3 separate regions of the Homo sapiens genome follow, and regions 2 and 3 are each linked to region 1. Evidence: fine-mapped expression QTL. A gene starts in region 1. Each other region holds a variant in brackets. All regions are shown on one strand. Distances are between the middles of the regions.

Region 1 (5,221 bases):
CTGACCTCAGGTGATCTGCCTGCCTCAGCCTCTCAAAGTGCTAGGATTACAGGCATGAGCCACTGCACCCAGCCCAGTTCTTTAGAAGAGAGGCCTCCAGACCTAGGAAGAAGAGGGCCCAGACTGGGGTGGGGGCAGCAGCTCAGGGCAGCCCTCGTTAGAGACGAGGTCTCACTATGTTGCCCAGGCTGGTCTCGAACTCCTGAGCTCAAGCGATCCTCCAGCCTCGGCCTCTCAAAGTGCTGGGATGACAGGCATGAGCCCAGCCCCTTTCTGTGACTCTTATGTTACCTGTTTATTATATGACCAGGTCTAGGTGCTCCTCTAGGGCTGGCCCATCCATCCTGAAGCCTCAGTCTGACCCAGCATAAGAGTGACTATTCATCCCAGCAGGGAAACTGAGACACAGACTCTGTTTTCCCAGCTGCAGCAAAGAGTGGCAGGGCCTTTGCCCACGAACCTAATGGCAGGCACCCCAGAGGACAGCTGCTGATATTGACTAAATCCTTCATGTTTCTCCCTCTACTAGAAGCCCTGCAAGCATCGGCCCATTTTCCAGGTGAGAAAACTGAGGCCCACACTGAGGAAGCCAGTGCCTCAGTGTAGACTTGGCTAGTCCAGCTTCAGGTTGGGGCTGCTCAAGGCCAGCCCTGTCCCAGCCCCTCCCAGAGACCGGAGAGGGTGTTCAGGAAAGCAACTCAACCCTTCACTGTCTCTTTCACTGTTGCTTTCTGCCCACACAAAGGGCAAAGTCTGCCTGGGCCCCTCGCCCAGCCGCCCCTGTAAAATAGCCACAGGGCCCCACTTGTGCACTTGGCAAACTCTAAGCAGCTTCCAGAAGCCTTGGCCATGCCAGCACCTTTCCCAGATACTTTTTTATTTTTTCCATTATTTTGTTGGTAATAAGGAAAAGTCATTTTTTGCACAGAACAGACGGTATTTTCTTTGCTCCCCACAATGTTCAAGCATTTCGTGGCTTCCGGCCTGAGAACAGAGCCAAATCCTTCCCTTGTGCAGATGCCTCGTGAAGTTAGAAGCAGCCAGGGAAACCGAGTCTGTGCCTCAGTTTCCCCTGTGGGATGAACAGTCGCTCTTGTGCTGGGTCAGACTGGGGCTTCAGGATGGATGGGCCAGCCCTAGAGGAGCACCCAGACCTGGTCATGTAATAAACAGGTAACATAAGAGTCACAGAAAGGGTCTGGGCTCACACCTGTCATCCCAGCACTTTGGGAGGCCGAGGTGGGAGGATCACTTGAGCTTAGGAGTTTGAGACCAGCCTGGGCAACATAGTGAGACCTCGTCTCTAAAAATAAACTTTAAAAAAGAAAAAAAAAAGAGTCACAGGGATTGGGACAGGGGAGGGCAAGATCCCTTCCAAGGCCAGGGTAGTCAGAGAGGCTTCCTGGAGGAGGAGACAGGGTGGTGGCGCTGAGCCTGGAAGGACAAGGCAGAAGAGATGCCTGCAGCGAGGGCATTCCAGGTGGAAGGAACAGTTTGGGCAAAGGCCTGGATGGGGGAAGACTCAGATCTTGGCGCAGGAGTCAATCTCCAAAAACAACCTGACCTGGAATTCACCTAAAGGTAATTTGAATGTAATGTAACCGCCAGCTCAGATATACTATTCTTCTTAGAAGGAAACAGAAATAAAGGAACAGGGAAAGGAGACAGGAGCAGAGGTCTTGGAGATGAAAAGCAAAAGCCTCTCTGAAGTTGTCAAAACACTCAAGTGTCGGCCAGGTGTGGTGGCTCACGTCTGTAATCCCAGGACTTTGGGAAGCCGAGGGGGGCAGATCACTTGAGGTCAGGAGTTCGAGACCAGACTGGCCAACATGGTGAAACCCCATCTCTACTAAAAATACAAAAATCAGCCAGGTGTGGTGGCATGCACCTGTAGTCCCAACTACTCGGGAGGCTGAGGCAGGAGAATTGCTTGAATCTGGGAGGCAGAGGCTGCAGTAAGCCGAGATTGTGCCACTGCACTCCAGCCTGGGCAACAGAGTGAGACTTTGTCTCAAAAAAAAGAAAAGAAAAGAAAAGAAAAACTCAAATGTAAGATCAGAGCTTTAGGGCGCCACAGGCCTTGGTTCCAGGGAGCTGCAGGACCTCTGTCCACAAACGAACCAACGGCGCCGCACCGTGTGATTTTGGAGACGGTGCCAGAGAGGGGGCGGCACCAGGATTGACAAGTGGGACACATGGGCTTGGGGCTGGGGAGGTGGATCCTAGTTCAACTCCGGAAGGATGCTCTCCTGGCAAGTGTGGGAAGGGGGTGCTCCCTGTGACCAGAGGTGACAAACGCAGGCCAGTGGAGGCTGAGGGGATGCAACCATGCGTTGGAGACATTTCCTCAGCCTTTGGATTTTGGAACCCTCAAACAACAGCAAAGATAACCTTAATCCAACCATTGTGGGCATTTTTACCATCGTCTTGGGAGGGACAGAGGTGGACAGACGTCCCTGCTTAGGGATGGGACGGGCAGGGGAACAGAGGCTTCTCTCTCTTTGTCTTGCTTCCCGTTCCCTCCCGAAGTTGATCTCTTCCGTTTCCTGGCAACACCCATTGAGCACTTACTGTATGCAGACCCTGAGACCCACTGCCCCCTCCCCAACCTCACTGGGCCACCCATGTCAGCCCGGGAGGGACCTGACCTCCCTCACAGGCCCAAAGTTATGACCTCAGGTAGTGGGGACAGAGGCAGCTGTCTCCTGAGAAGGTGACAGGAGGGTGAGGTCACATCGCTGTCCGTGCAACTCTCTCCATCTGCTTCCTATCTCTCCGCCTGTCTCCCCCGTGTCTCTGTTTCTGGGTCTCTTTCTCATCCCAGATGTCCCTCTCCGTCTGTCTCTCTGTCCCCACCCTCTGCTCCCAACCCGACCCCACGCAACCCCCCCCCCCACTCCCCCTCCACCGCCCCTAACCCCCTCCCTCAATCCTCCGTCCCTTCCCCAGTCCCGGCCCCCGCCCCTCCCCCTTATCCCCTCCCCCATACCCTCTCCCAGTGCAAAAAGCCGGCAGGGGGCGCAGCGGGGCGGCCTTGGCGGCCCGGGGAGGCGGGGCGGGCGGCGGCCGCGTCGGGACCGGCCGCGATGGGACCGGAGGCGGCGCGGGCGGCGGCGGCGCAGACAAAGGCACGGGCGGCGTGGAGGGCGGCGCGGAGGGCGCGGGCCCGGGAGCCAGGGAGCGAGCGGGGCGCCCGGCAGCGCGGAGTCAGCGCCGCGGGGGCCGCACCCGACTCGCGCCTGGACACTCGCGGGGCGCCGACCTGGCAGGGTGAGCCCGGCCTGCCGAGCCTGCGCTGGGAGCGCGGGGGCCTCGAAGTCCCAGGGCCAAGGGGAGGGCGTGGGGGTTCCCCAGAAGTTTCGGACCCGGGACTGGGAGCGGCGCGAGGGGTCCCCAAGTTCCAGGGCTGGAGGGAGCGCGGGGGTCCCGAAGTTCTGGATTCAGGGTCTGAGAGGGGACTGCGTGGGAGGTTCCCAAAGTTCTGGACCCGGCGTTGGAGGAGGCTGCGAAGAGGTCCCCAAAGCTGCGGACCTGGGGTGGGGTACTGGGGTGGGAGGGGTCCGGACGTCCCGGACCCAGGGACTGGAGGGGTGGCAGGGGGTCCTCGAAGTTTAGGAGTCTAGGACAACGCGGAGGACCGGGGTCCCGGACCCAGTTAGAGGAGGAGTCACGAAGGGAGTCCCCGGAGTTACCGACCTGGGGTTGGAGGAGGCAGAAGAGGTGTCCCCCGAAGTTCTGGACCCAGAGACAGGGGGCGTCGCGGGAATCTCGGAAGTTCCAGGGTCAGAGCCCGCGTCCCGGAGTTGGGGCGTGCACTGGGTGTCCTGCCTCGGGTGGGGATGGGATCCTGAATTAATATTAACCCCCCCGTCCCCCGCACTCGGGTGCATGGGATGGGGCCTCATCCACCGGCCAGATTGGGGATCCCGGGCACCGGGCGGTGTCGGACCCCCCTCCGGGAGCCCCGTGGCCGGCGGCATCCGAGGCGCATGACTAGTTGGTGAGTAACTTTCCCCAAACGCTGCAAGTCGCAGCAGGAGCTGCCGGACCGGAAGGGCCTGGGTTCCGGGGACCCCTGTGTTCCCCAACTCCCACCCGGCGCAGGACCCGCCCCCAGTCCAGGCCAGAGCTGCCGCCCCACCCCCACTCAGGGGCTCCGGTTTCAGACCCTGTGACCAGGACAGCAGCTGCCCAGGACAGGATAGGGGGGGCATCCCCCCTTTGACCACAGAGGCCGCTGGGCCAGGGCCTCCCCTCCCCCACCTGTCTTCCCCCTCCTCCAAACTCCTCCTTGGTCCCCTGCAGATTCGGGGTTGCTGAATGGCCCAATGGGGAGGTTGGGGAGCCCTGGTCTCCCAGTGTGGATTCTGCTCTGCCCTCATGGTGGGCATTGGGATTGGCTGTTTGTCTACATCTTGTCTTTTTAACTTGGCTGGGGGCTCCCTGGGGATTTGGACTCTGGACTTCAAGGTGTGCTTCTGCCCTAGGGTGGGAGCTGCTGGGGGTGGGGTCCCTCTGCAGGGTGTAGTGGGGAACTGGTCTCCTGGTACTACACACCTCTCAACGCCCCATTTTTTGGTGGAGAGCCCCGCTCTGGCCAGTCATGGGTGAATGTGGTGGAAAGAACTCAGCAGAGATTTGGCCTCCACAGCTCAGCCTGGGATGGAGGGGACTTCACGGGGGTGCAATAACCAGGACAATGAGAAATTTACATCTGGATGTCAGCGGCCACCAGGCTCCTCTCAGAGGGCCATCTCCTGTACAGGGTGTTGTGGGGGCTTCCCCTAGACAAAGAAAGATGGGGTCTGCTTGCTCTGAGTTATCTATAATAATTATCTTACCTTTTTGTTTCTTTTTATAATTTCTTTCTTTTTTGAGACAGGGTCTCACTCTCTTGTCCAGGCTGGAGTGCAGTGGCCTGACCATAGCTCACTGCACTGCAGCCTTGACCTCCTGGGCTCAAGTGATCCTCCCACCTCAGCCTCCCCAGTAGCTGGGACGGCAGGCACATGCCACCACACCCAGCTAATTGTTTAAATTTTTGGTAGAGATGGGGTCTCGCCATGTTGCTCAGGATGGTCTCGAACTCCTGGGCTCAAAGGATCCTCCTGACTCAGCCTCCCAAAGCACCAGGTGTACTTTGGGCCTCTCCTGCCTTTTTGATTGAAAGTTCCATGACGGGCACACCTGGTGATGGGTCCTGAGATGGAACCTGCTTGGC
Region 2 (5,221 bases), 30 kb before region 1:
ATAATCCAAGCACTTTAGAAGGCTGAAGTGGGCGGATCACTTGTGGTCAGGAGTTTGAGACCAACCTGGCCAACATGGTGAAACCCCCATCTCTACTAAAAATACAAAAATTGGCTGGGCGCAGTGGCTCACGCCTGTAATCCCAGCAGGCTGGGAGGCCAAGACAAGTGGATCACCTGAGGTCAGGAGTTCAAAACCAGCCTGGCCAACATGGTAAAACCCCATCTCTACTAAAAATACAAAAATTAGGCCGGACATGGTGGCTCACACCTGTAATCCCAGCACTTTGGGAGGCCAAGGCAGGCAGATCACGAGGTCAGGAGATCGAGACAATCCTGGCTAACACGGTGAAACCCCGTCTCTACTAAAAATACAGGCGCTGGTGGGCGCCTGTAGTCCCAGCTACTTGGGAGGCTGAGGCAGGAGAATGGCCTGAACCTGGGAGGTGGAGCTTGCAGTGAGCTGAGATCGTGCCACTGCACTACAGCCTGGGCAACAGAGCAAGACTCCATCTCAAAAAAAAAAAAAAAATTAGCCTGGCATGGTGGCAGGCGCCTGTAATCCCAGCTAGTGAGGAGGCTGAGGCAGGAGAATCGCTTGAACCCGGGAGGCAGAGGTTGTAGTGAGCCGAGATCACGCCATTGCACTCCAGCCTGGGCAGCAGGAGTGAAACTCCATCTCAAAAAAATAAAATAAAATAAAATAAAATAAATGGCCGGGTGTGGTGGCTCATGCCTGTAATCCCAGCACTTTGGGAGGCTGAGGCGGGCGGATCACCTGAGGTCAGGAGTTCGAGACCAACCTGACCAACACAGAGAAACCCCATCTCTACTAAAAATACAAAATTAGCCGAGCATGGTAGCACATGCCTGTAATCCCAGCTACTAGGGAGGCTGAGGCAGGAGAATCACTTGAACCTGGGAGGCAGAGGTTGCGGTGAGCCGAGATCACGCCATTGCACTCCAGCCTGGGCAACAAGAGCGAAACTCCATCTCAAAACAGAAACAAACAAACAAAAATTCCTGCAGGACGCCTTACTCAAGACTGCAAATAAGAGAAACTCTCTCTCTCTCTCTCTCTTTTTTTCTTTTATTTTGCGACAGATTCTCAATTTGTTGCCCAGGCTAGAGTGTAATGGTGCCATCAGGGCTCACTGCAGGCTCAGCCTTCTGGGCTCAAGCGATCCTCGGCCTCTCAAGTGATCCACATCACCCGAGCTAGAGAAACCCGGGGTCCTGATGCCACAGTGGTAAGACCTGCCATGCCGCTGGAGAGCAATAATATGGCACCCACTGCATGCCAGTGCCGTGCCAGCACCAAAGACAGAAAGGGTGGCTCAGGAAGGTTCTGGATTTTGGATTTTAACTTTTGGCTGTAGATGGAGGGTGCTCTTATCTGCTTCTGGGCCAGTGGGACCAGCCCTTTCCTGCATTACCTCACCCCAGTGCTGGTGGGAGGACAGTCTAAACTCTATTCACAGAGCGTCAGAGAGAATGAAGCCCTCGGTTGGGTGTGGTGGCTAACACCTGTAACCCCAGCAATTTGGGAGGCCAAAGTGGGCGGATCACTTGAGCCCAGGAGTCCAAGACCAGCCTGGGCAACATGGTGAGACCCCTGTCTCTACACAAAATACAAAATTTAGCCATGGGTGTTGGTACATGCTTGTGGCCCCAGCTACTCAGGAGGCTGAGGTAGCTGAGGATCACTTGAGCCCTGGGAGTCGAGGCTGTAGTGAGCTATGATTGTGTCATTGCACTCCAGCCTGGGTGACAGAGAAATTTCCTGTCTAAAAAAAAAAAAAAAAAAAAAAATTCGTGGTGCTGGAGCCTCTGAGGAAATGCAGCGCGTAGGAGCTGGGGCTCCCCTGCCTGCACCCGGGGCCTCTGCAGATGACCAGAAAAACTGCCCCACAGGAGCTCAGACTGGCCAGGGGGCCCCAAGACCCACGCTGAAGGCCAGGTCCTGCCAAAAAGTGCACACGGGGTAACTGTCATTTCCCCTAATTAAAAAAATGTTGGTCAATTTCCTGATGGAGAAACAAAGAAGCAGAAAAGAAAACAAATAAAAA[C/T]CCTGCAACCCCTCCCTTAATCGCTCAGCTCGCAGAGATAATCTCCGTTGGCATGTTCATGACCGCTTTCCAGCATTTCTTTGCCTGCATTTTCAAAACGGTCTTATTATATTTTTGTTCTTATCCAAGAAATGTGACTGTATTGGAGAAGAAACAGCCAACAAGATAAGCAGAGAGAAAAAATAAACAGAAATTATACCTCTCGGCCGGGCACCGTGGCTCACGCCTGTAATCCCAGCACTTTGGGAGGCCAACACAGGCAGATCACTCGAGGTCAGGAGTTTGAAACCAGCCTGGCCAACATGGTGAAACCCCGTCAACATGGCGTGAAAAAAAATTAGCCAGGCGTGGTGGCGTGTGCCTGTAATCCTAGGTACATGGGAGGCTGAGGAAGGAGAATTGCTTGAACTTGTGAGGCAAAGGTTGTAGTGAGCCAAGATCGCGCCATTGCACTCCAGCCTGGGTGACAAGAGTGAAACTACGTCTCAAAAAAATAATAATAAATAATAATAAACGGCCAGGCATGGTGGCTCACACCTGTAATTCCAGCACTTTAGGAGGCCGAGGCAGGTGGATCACTTGAGGTCAGGAGTTCAAGACCACTCTGGCCAACATGGTGAAATCCTGTCTCTATTAAAAGTATAAAAAATTAGCCCGGTGTGGTGGCAAACGCCCCGTAATCTCAGGTACTCGGGAGGCTAAGGGGAGAGTATCGCTTGAGCCCGAGAGTTTAACAGCATGGACAACATAGTAAGACCCCTGTCTCTAAAAAATAAACAATTTAAAAAAAATTTTTTTTTTGGAGACAAGAGTCTCCTTTTGTCACCCAGGCTGGAGTGCAGTGGCGCAACCTTGGCTCGCTGCAACCTCCACTTCCCGGGTTCAAGTGATTCTCCCGCCTCAGCTTCCCATGTGCCTAGAATTACAGGCATGCGCCATCATGCCCAGCTAATTTTTGTATTTTTAGTAAAGACAGGGTTTCTCCACGTTGGCAGGCTGGTCTTGAACTCCTGACTTCAGGTAACCCACCTGCCTCAGCCTCCCAAAGTGCTGGGATTACAGGACTGAGCCACCATGCTTGGCCAAAAGTTTTGTTTTTAAATTTAATGTTTATACTTCTTTCCTCTGCTTAAAAAAAAATACAACATACATCTCTTGGCCAGGCACAGTGGCTCACACCTGTAATCCCAGCACTTTGGGAAGCCGAGGAGGGCGGGTCACCTGAGGTCAGCAGTTCGAGACCAGCCTGGCCAATATGGTGAAACCCCATCTCTACTAAAAATACAAAAATTAACCAGGCATGGTGGCAGGCACCTGTAATCCCAGCTACTCAGGAGGCTGAGGTGGGAGAATCACTTGAATCCGGGAGGCAGAGGTTGCAATGATCCAAGATCGCTCCATTGCACTTGAGACTGGGCAACAGAGCAAAACTCCGCCTAGAAAAAAAAAACAGAAAAAAGTAAAAAGAAAAAAAGAATTCATCTCTCTCACACACATACACACTCACATAAACACACACATATATATACACACACACACACATATCTACAACTCATGTAGGACGGGAAAGGCTATCAGCCCCACCCACCCAGCAGAGCTCCACCTGAGGCAGGTCAGAACAGGAGACAAATTAAAGTTCAAGGCCGGGGCGGTGGCTCACGCCTGTAATCCCAGCACTTTGGGAGGCTAAGGCAGGCAGATCATCTGAGGTCAGGAGCTCAAGACCAGCCTTGGCTGACATGGTGAAACCCCGTTTCTACTAAAAATACAAAAATTAGCCAGGCGTGGTGGCGCATGCCTGTAATCCCAGCTACTTGGGAGGCTGAGGCATGAGAATTGCGTGAAGCCAAGAGACAAGTTGCAGCAAGCCGAGATCGTGCCACTGCACTCCAGCCTGGGAGACAGTCTCACTCTGTCTCCCCCAAAAAAAGAAAAAAAAATAGATATGTGATTCATCCAGAGTTCAGGCTTGATCCCTGACATGGATGAAACTGTCAAGTTATTGAGGCTAATTTCAAAAACTTTTTTCTGTGTGCTATTTTGTTTTAATTTTTTGAGACAGGCTCTCATGCTGTCCCCCAGGCTGGAGTGCAGTGGCGTGATCATAACTCACTGCAGCCTCCTGGGCCCAAGACAATTCTACCTCAGCCTCCAGAGTAGCTGATACTACAGGCACGAGCTACCACACCCGGCTACTTTTCAAAGTTTTTGTAAAGGCGGGCTGTCACTATGTTACCCAGGCTGGTCTCGAACTCCTGGGCTCAAGGGATCGATTGCTCCTGCCTTGGCCTCCCGAAGTGCTGGGATTACAGGCATGAGCCACCATGCCCAGCCTCTTTTATTTTGAATACCAAAATAATACAATAGTTCCCCCTTGCCTGTGGGGAATATGTTCCAAGATTGCCAGTAAATTCCTGAAACTTCAGAAAATACCAAACGTGTATGCACTGTTTTTTTCCTATGCATACATACATACCTATGATAAAGTTTAATTTATCAGTGAGACACAGTAAAAGATTAACAACAATAACATAATAAAATAGAAAATTAATAAAATTTGGATTTCTGGAACATAAGCACTGTAATACTGACACGGTTGATCTGATCACCCAGAAGATTACTAAGTGACTAGCCGGCTGGTAGTGTCTATGGCGTGGGCACCCTTAACAAAGGGATGATTCATATCCAGGGTGGGAGGGGGCGGGGTGGGGACTGATTTCATCACACTACTCATAACGGCAGGCAACTGAAAACTTACGAATTATTTCTGGAATTTTCCACTTAATATGTTTGGATTGAGGTTGATGGAAGGTAGCCAACACCACAGAAAATGAAACCTCAGGCCGGGTGCGGTGGCTCACGCCTGTAATCCCAGCACTTTGGGAGGCCCAGGCAGGTGGATCACCTGAGGTCATGAGTTCAAGACCAGCCTGACCAGTATGGCGAGACTGCATCTGTACTAAAAATACAAAAATTAGCTGGGTGTGGTGGTGCGTGCCTGTAATCCCAGCTACTCCAGAGGCTGAGGCAGGAGAATCACTTGAACCTGGGAGGTGGAGGTTGCAGTGAGCCGAGATCGTAGCACTGCACTCCAGCCTGGGAGACAGAGCAAGCCTCCATCTCAAAAAAAAAAAGAAAGAAAGAAAGAAAGTG
Region 3 (5,221 bases), 42 kb before region 1:
AGGAAGGATCACTTGAGCCCGGGAGGTCAAGGCTGCAGTGAGCTGTGATTGTACCACTGCACTCCAGCCTGGGTGACAGAGTATGACCTTGTCTCAAAAAAAATAAATCCATTTGCAAAGTGTAGCATCATTTTTGTAAAAATCTTGTAAAATGTAGACAAGCCCCCCGTATATGGCAATGTTGGGCTGTGTTTCAGCACAAAGATGGGTCTACTCCAAACCGGCCACGTGGTAGGGAAGCGTGTGGGGTCCGGGCAGGGGTGCCACCCCCCACCAACACCCAGCCATGTGCCTCCTTACAACCAGTTTGAAAGGAAAATCCACTGAAGAATGTTTAGAGGAAGTAAAAACAGCAAAGCACTTGCTGGCAGCAATTGTCGGCCTTTGTTTCGGAGGCAGCTGTGGTCTTAGGAGAAAAAAGGATCAGATTTGAACCAAGACAGTTTCTTCCTGTGTCAAATGGGGAAATAAGCCTGGCTTCCTCCCAGGGCCATTGTTCAAAGGCTGCTGTGAAAAACCCTCTGACATCTCCTTGGCAGAGGCTCTGATCGGCTTTTTACATCTTGTCTGTTCACTCATTCATTCATTCATTCATTCACCACACATTTTTATTTGTTGGTTTTCGTTTTGAGACAGGGTCTTACTCTGTCGCCCAGGCTGGAGTGTAGTGGTGCCATCTCGGCTTACTGCAACCTCCACCTCCAAGATTCACGCAATCCTCCCACCTCAGCCTCCTGAGTAGCCGGGACTATGGGCACGCGCCACCATGCCCAGCTAATTTTTGTATTTTTTAGTAGAGAGGGGCTTTTGTCATGGTGCGGTGGCTCATGCTTGTAATCCCAGCACTTTGGGAGGCCAAGGCAGACGGATCGCTTGAGGTCAGGAGTTTGAGACCAGCCTGGGCAAGACGGCAAAATTCCGTTTGTACTAAAAATACAAAAATTAGCCAGGCATGGTGGTACACACACATAGTTCCAGCTACTCGGGAGGCTGAGGCGAGAAGATCACTTGAACCCGGAAAGTGGAGGTTGCAGCGAGCCGGGATGGCGTCACTGCACTCCAGCCTGAGTGACAGAGTAAGACTCTGTCTCAAAAACAAACAAAAAATTTATCATCATTATCATTATTATTTTTAAGACGGCATCTCACTCTGTAGCCCAGGCTGGAGTACAGTGGCATGATCATAGCTCTCTGCAGCCTTGACCTCCTGGGCTGAAATGATCCTCCAGCCTTAGCCTCCTGAGTAGCTGGGACTACAGGCATGTATCACCATGCCTGGCCTGATTTACACCTTTTAAAAGAGCAGTCTGGAAGGGCAGGGCAGGAATGAAAGCAATTCTGAACTGTTCCATCTATACCCCTCGGTTCCAGCCCCATTTAATGGCAGGCACCTGTGCAGGGTATCAGGGCTACCCTGGGCTGCTGGAGCACCCTTTGCCTGAATGCCCACTGGAACCAGAAGTGCCTGGAATTGACATTCCCCAGGGTAACCCTGACAGCTGACGAGGGTGGGGTGTGAATAACCTAGCCAAAAGACACAGAGACATAGACCCCGTGTGCTGGCCAGCTATTTGGTAAAACAACCATTCTCTGGCAGTTGTCTGAAATGTGGCCTTAGACAACGTTGTAGGCTCCGTCTCAGCCCCGAACCCCATGGAGGTCACTTGCAAGGAACCCAGAGCAAACCTGTCCTTTCTGGCTTGGACGTCCCACCTGCCTACTCTAGAGCCTTTGACAGTTTCCCTGTTTCAGTCCAGAGATGTTCACCCTCTCCTTTCTGGCTCTCCACGTTCTTGGCAGGTTGTTGCAAGAGGCAGAGATGTCTGGGAGCAACTAAGTCCCTCAGAACGCAGAAAACCTTCTTCTTCTTCTTCTTCTTTTTTTTTTTTTTTTTTTTTTTTTTTTTTTTTTGAGACAGAGTCTCACTCTGTTGCCCAGGCTGGTGGAGTACAGCAGCTCAATCTGGGCTCACTGCAACCCCCTGTAACCCCCACCTCCCAGTTTCAAGCAATTATTTTGCCTCAGCCTCCCAAGTAGCTAGGACTACAGGCAGGCACCACCATACCTGGCTAATTTTTGTATTTTTAGTAGAGATGGGGTTTCACCATGTTGCTCAGGCTGGTCTTGAACTCCTGACCTCAGATGATCCATCCGCCTCTGCCTCCCAAAGTGTTGGGATTACAGGCATGAACCACTGCACCTGGCCAGAAAACCTTCTTTTATCCAAGTCCAAGTAAGCAGGAGTCCAGGGTGGGCACCCGGGGGGCATCCCTAGATAGCACTGGATATCTTATAGCGCCAGGCATGGCAAAGAACGCTTGGCACCTGTGCTCCTTTCACCTTAGGCAACCACAGCTCCCTTTACAGACGAGGAAACTGAGGCCCAGAGACGTTGGTTAACAACTCTCTGGGGCAGGCAGGTGGGACGTCCAAGCCATTTCCAGAAAG[T/G]TCAGTTCTTAGGGCTGGTCTTTAGCTGTTTTTTTTTTTTGTTTTTTTTTTTTTGAGACAGAGTCTCATTCTGTCACCCAGGCTGGAGTGCGGTGGCACTGCAGCCTCAACCTCCCTGAGCTCAGGTGATCCTCCCATTTCAGCCTCCCAAGTAGCTGGGACTACAGGCATGCACCACCATGCCTGGCTAATTTTTTTTTTTTTTTTCTTTTTGTAGAGACAGGGTCCACTATGTTGCCCAGGCTGGTCACAAACTGTTGGGCTTGAGTGATCCGCTTATTTCAGCCTCCTAAAGTGCTAAGATTACAGGCAGGAGCCACTACAGCCTGCCTGGTCTTTGACTTTCTGTTTATCCTCATAGACAGCAATGAGGGCAGCCTCAATTTTCCAATTTCTCTGCTCTCCTAATGAATGAAGTAACTGACATGTTTATAGTGCTGTCTCTGCAGCACTAAGGGCTGAATACATGGGAACTCTTTGGGCTGCATAAAGCCAAAAAGGGAATTAATTGGTGGATGGAATTGGAAAGGACACCTTCAGGATCAGCTGGATCAAGGCACTCAACCAAAACCACCAGCCTCTCTCTCTATTTCTTGGCTTTGCTGTCCTTTGTTTACAGGCAGGCAAGATGGTGGCCAGCAACTCGGAGCCTAGCCTTACCCATTTAAGCAACATCACAAGAGCTCTGTTGTCTGATAGGGGTGGCACAGACACCAAGATTGTCTATTATTGCCCCAGCCCGGGGCATATGCCTGTCTCTGAACCAATCACAGTGGCCAGAGGGCTACAATACACTGATAGCTAGGGCTTCATTGGCTAAGAAGGGGGAAAGACCCCAAGCACAACAAGATGCTGTTCACAGAAGGACTAGGAAGAGCCCCTGCAAGTGGGCAGAATCAGAATCGGAACCCAGCTCTTCACTCCTTAGCTATATTGGTCTCAGCTGCTTTCTTTTCTTTTGAGACAGAGTTTTGCTCTTGTTGCCCAGGCTGGAGTGCCATGGCGTGATCTCGGCTCACCACAACCTCCGCATCCCGGGTTCAAGCGATTCTCCTGCCTCAGCCTCCTGAGTAGCTGGGATTACAGACATGCGCCACCATGCCCAGCTAATTTTGTGTTTTTAGTAGAGATGGGGTTTCTCCATGTTGATCAGTCTGGTCTTGAACTCCCGACCTCAGGTGATCCGCCCACCTCAGCCTCTCAAAGTGCTGGGATTGAGATTACAGGCATGAGCCACCACGCCTGGCCAGCTGCTTTCTGATGGACACTTTCACCCCTTCAAACACCTTCCACTTCAAACTCACCATCAATCAGGTGCAGTGGCTCACACCTGTAATCCCAGCATTTTGGGAGGCCAAAGTGGGAGGATCACTTCAGCCCAGGAGTTGGAGAACAGCCTGGGCAACATAGGGAGACCCAGTCTCTATAAAAAATTTAAAAATCTAGCCAGGTGTGGTAGCCCATTCCTTGTAGTTCCAGCTACTTGAGAAGCTGAGGTGAGAGGATCACTAAAGCCCAGGAGCTCAAAGCTGCAGCGAGCCATGATTGTGCCACTGCACTTCAGCCTGGACAACATAGGAAGACCCTGTCTTTAAAAAAATTCAGGCCTGGCTGGGTGCGGGTGGCTCATGCCTGTAATCCCAGCACTTTGGGAGGCCGAGGCAGGTGGATCATTTGAGGTCAGGAGTTTAAGACCAGCCTGGCCAACATGGTGAAACACTGTCTTTACCCAAAAATTAACTGGGCATGCTGGCACACACCTGTAATCCCAGCTACTCAGGAGGCTGAAGCAGGAGAATCACTTGAACCCTGGAGGCAGAGGTTGCAGTGAGCCGACATCACGCCCCTGCGCTCTAGCCTGGGCAAAAAGAGCAAGTCTCCATAATAATAATAATCATCATCATCATCAGGCCCCCTGGGACCCTCCTCACTGAATCCCAGTCTCTGCTCTCTCGCCTTCTCTGAGCCCCAATTTCCTCATCTGTAAAATGGGTCATCAGGAGCGTCTTGTACTCAGTAAACAGCCAAAGGTCACATTGGATTTACAGAAAGTGAGATCCAGATTCAGAGAGCAAGGAGGCTGGGCGTGGTGGGTCACGCCCGTAATCCTAGCACTTTGAGAGGCCGAGGCGGGCGGATTGCTTGAGGTCAGGAGTTCGAGACCAGCCTGGCCAACGTGGCGAAACCCTATCTCTAAAATACAAAAATTATCCAGGAGTGGTGGCACAAGCCTGTAATCCCAGCTACTCAGGAGGCTGAGGCAGGAGAATCACTTGAACCCAGGAGGTGGAGGTTGCAGTGAGCTGAGATCATGCCACTGCACTCCAGTCTGAGCAACAGACCTAGACTCCATCTCAAAAAAAGAAAAGAAAAACATAGAAGATAAGTCCTTGTGGGGGGTCCTCAGTCAGGGCTGGCGTTGAACTTTCTGTTTATCCTCATAGATCATGAGGAGTTTGGGCAGCCCAAATTTTCCCATTTCTCCACTCTCCTAATGAATGAAGAGGCCAACATGCTGTTTTTAATCCCATCTTTGCAGCAGACATGAATAGCTTCAGGAAGGAACTGGCCGGCATGAGCCAGGCCTGGTGCAGGCTGGCCTGTGAAGTGTCCACATATAAACATTCCTGCAGTTCACGCCAACAAAGGAGAATATGCTCATTTTCATTTTCATTTTGAAAATTAGATTTATTTTGTTGTGTTGGTTAGATTCCATAAAGTTCAGTTCATGGTCAGCCCCCACCTTCAACTTGGCAAACTCATATTCATCCCC

The links.
Region 2: its variant is fine-mapped to the expression of HOMER3 in whole blood (TOPMed, PIP above 0.99).
Region 3: its variant is fine-mapped to the expression of HOMER3 in whole blood (TOPMed, PIP 0.98).

Annotation. Positions count from the first base shown.
Region 1 is chr19:18,939,100-18,944,320 of GRCh38, reverse strand. HOMER3 (homer scaffold protein 3) reads left to right here and starts at 3,104. Exons shown (of 10, transcript NM_004838.4): 1 at 3,104-3,270. HOMER3-AS1 (HOMER3 antisense RNA 1) reads right to left here and starts at 4,067. Exons shown (of 3, transcript NR_134913.1): 1 at 3,697-4,067. RefSeq lists a silencer at 2,941-3,140.
Region 2 is chr19:18,969,284-18,974,504 of GRCh38, reverse strand. No RefSeq gene overlaps it. Among named protein-coding and RNA genes, the nearest start is that of HOMER3, 31 kb to the right of the region's middle. The variant C/T (reference allele first, on the strand shown) is at 2,069.
Region 3 is chr19:18,980,645-18,985,865 of GRCh38, reverse strand. No RefSeq gene overlaps it. Among named protein-coding and RNA genes, the nearest start is that of HOMER3, 42 kb to the right of the region's middle. The variant T/G (reference allele first, on the strand shown) is at 2,449.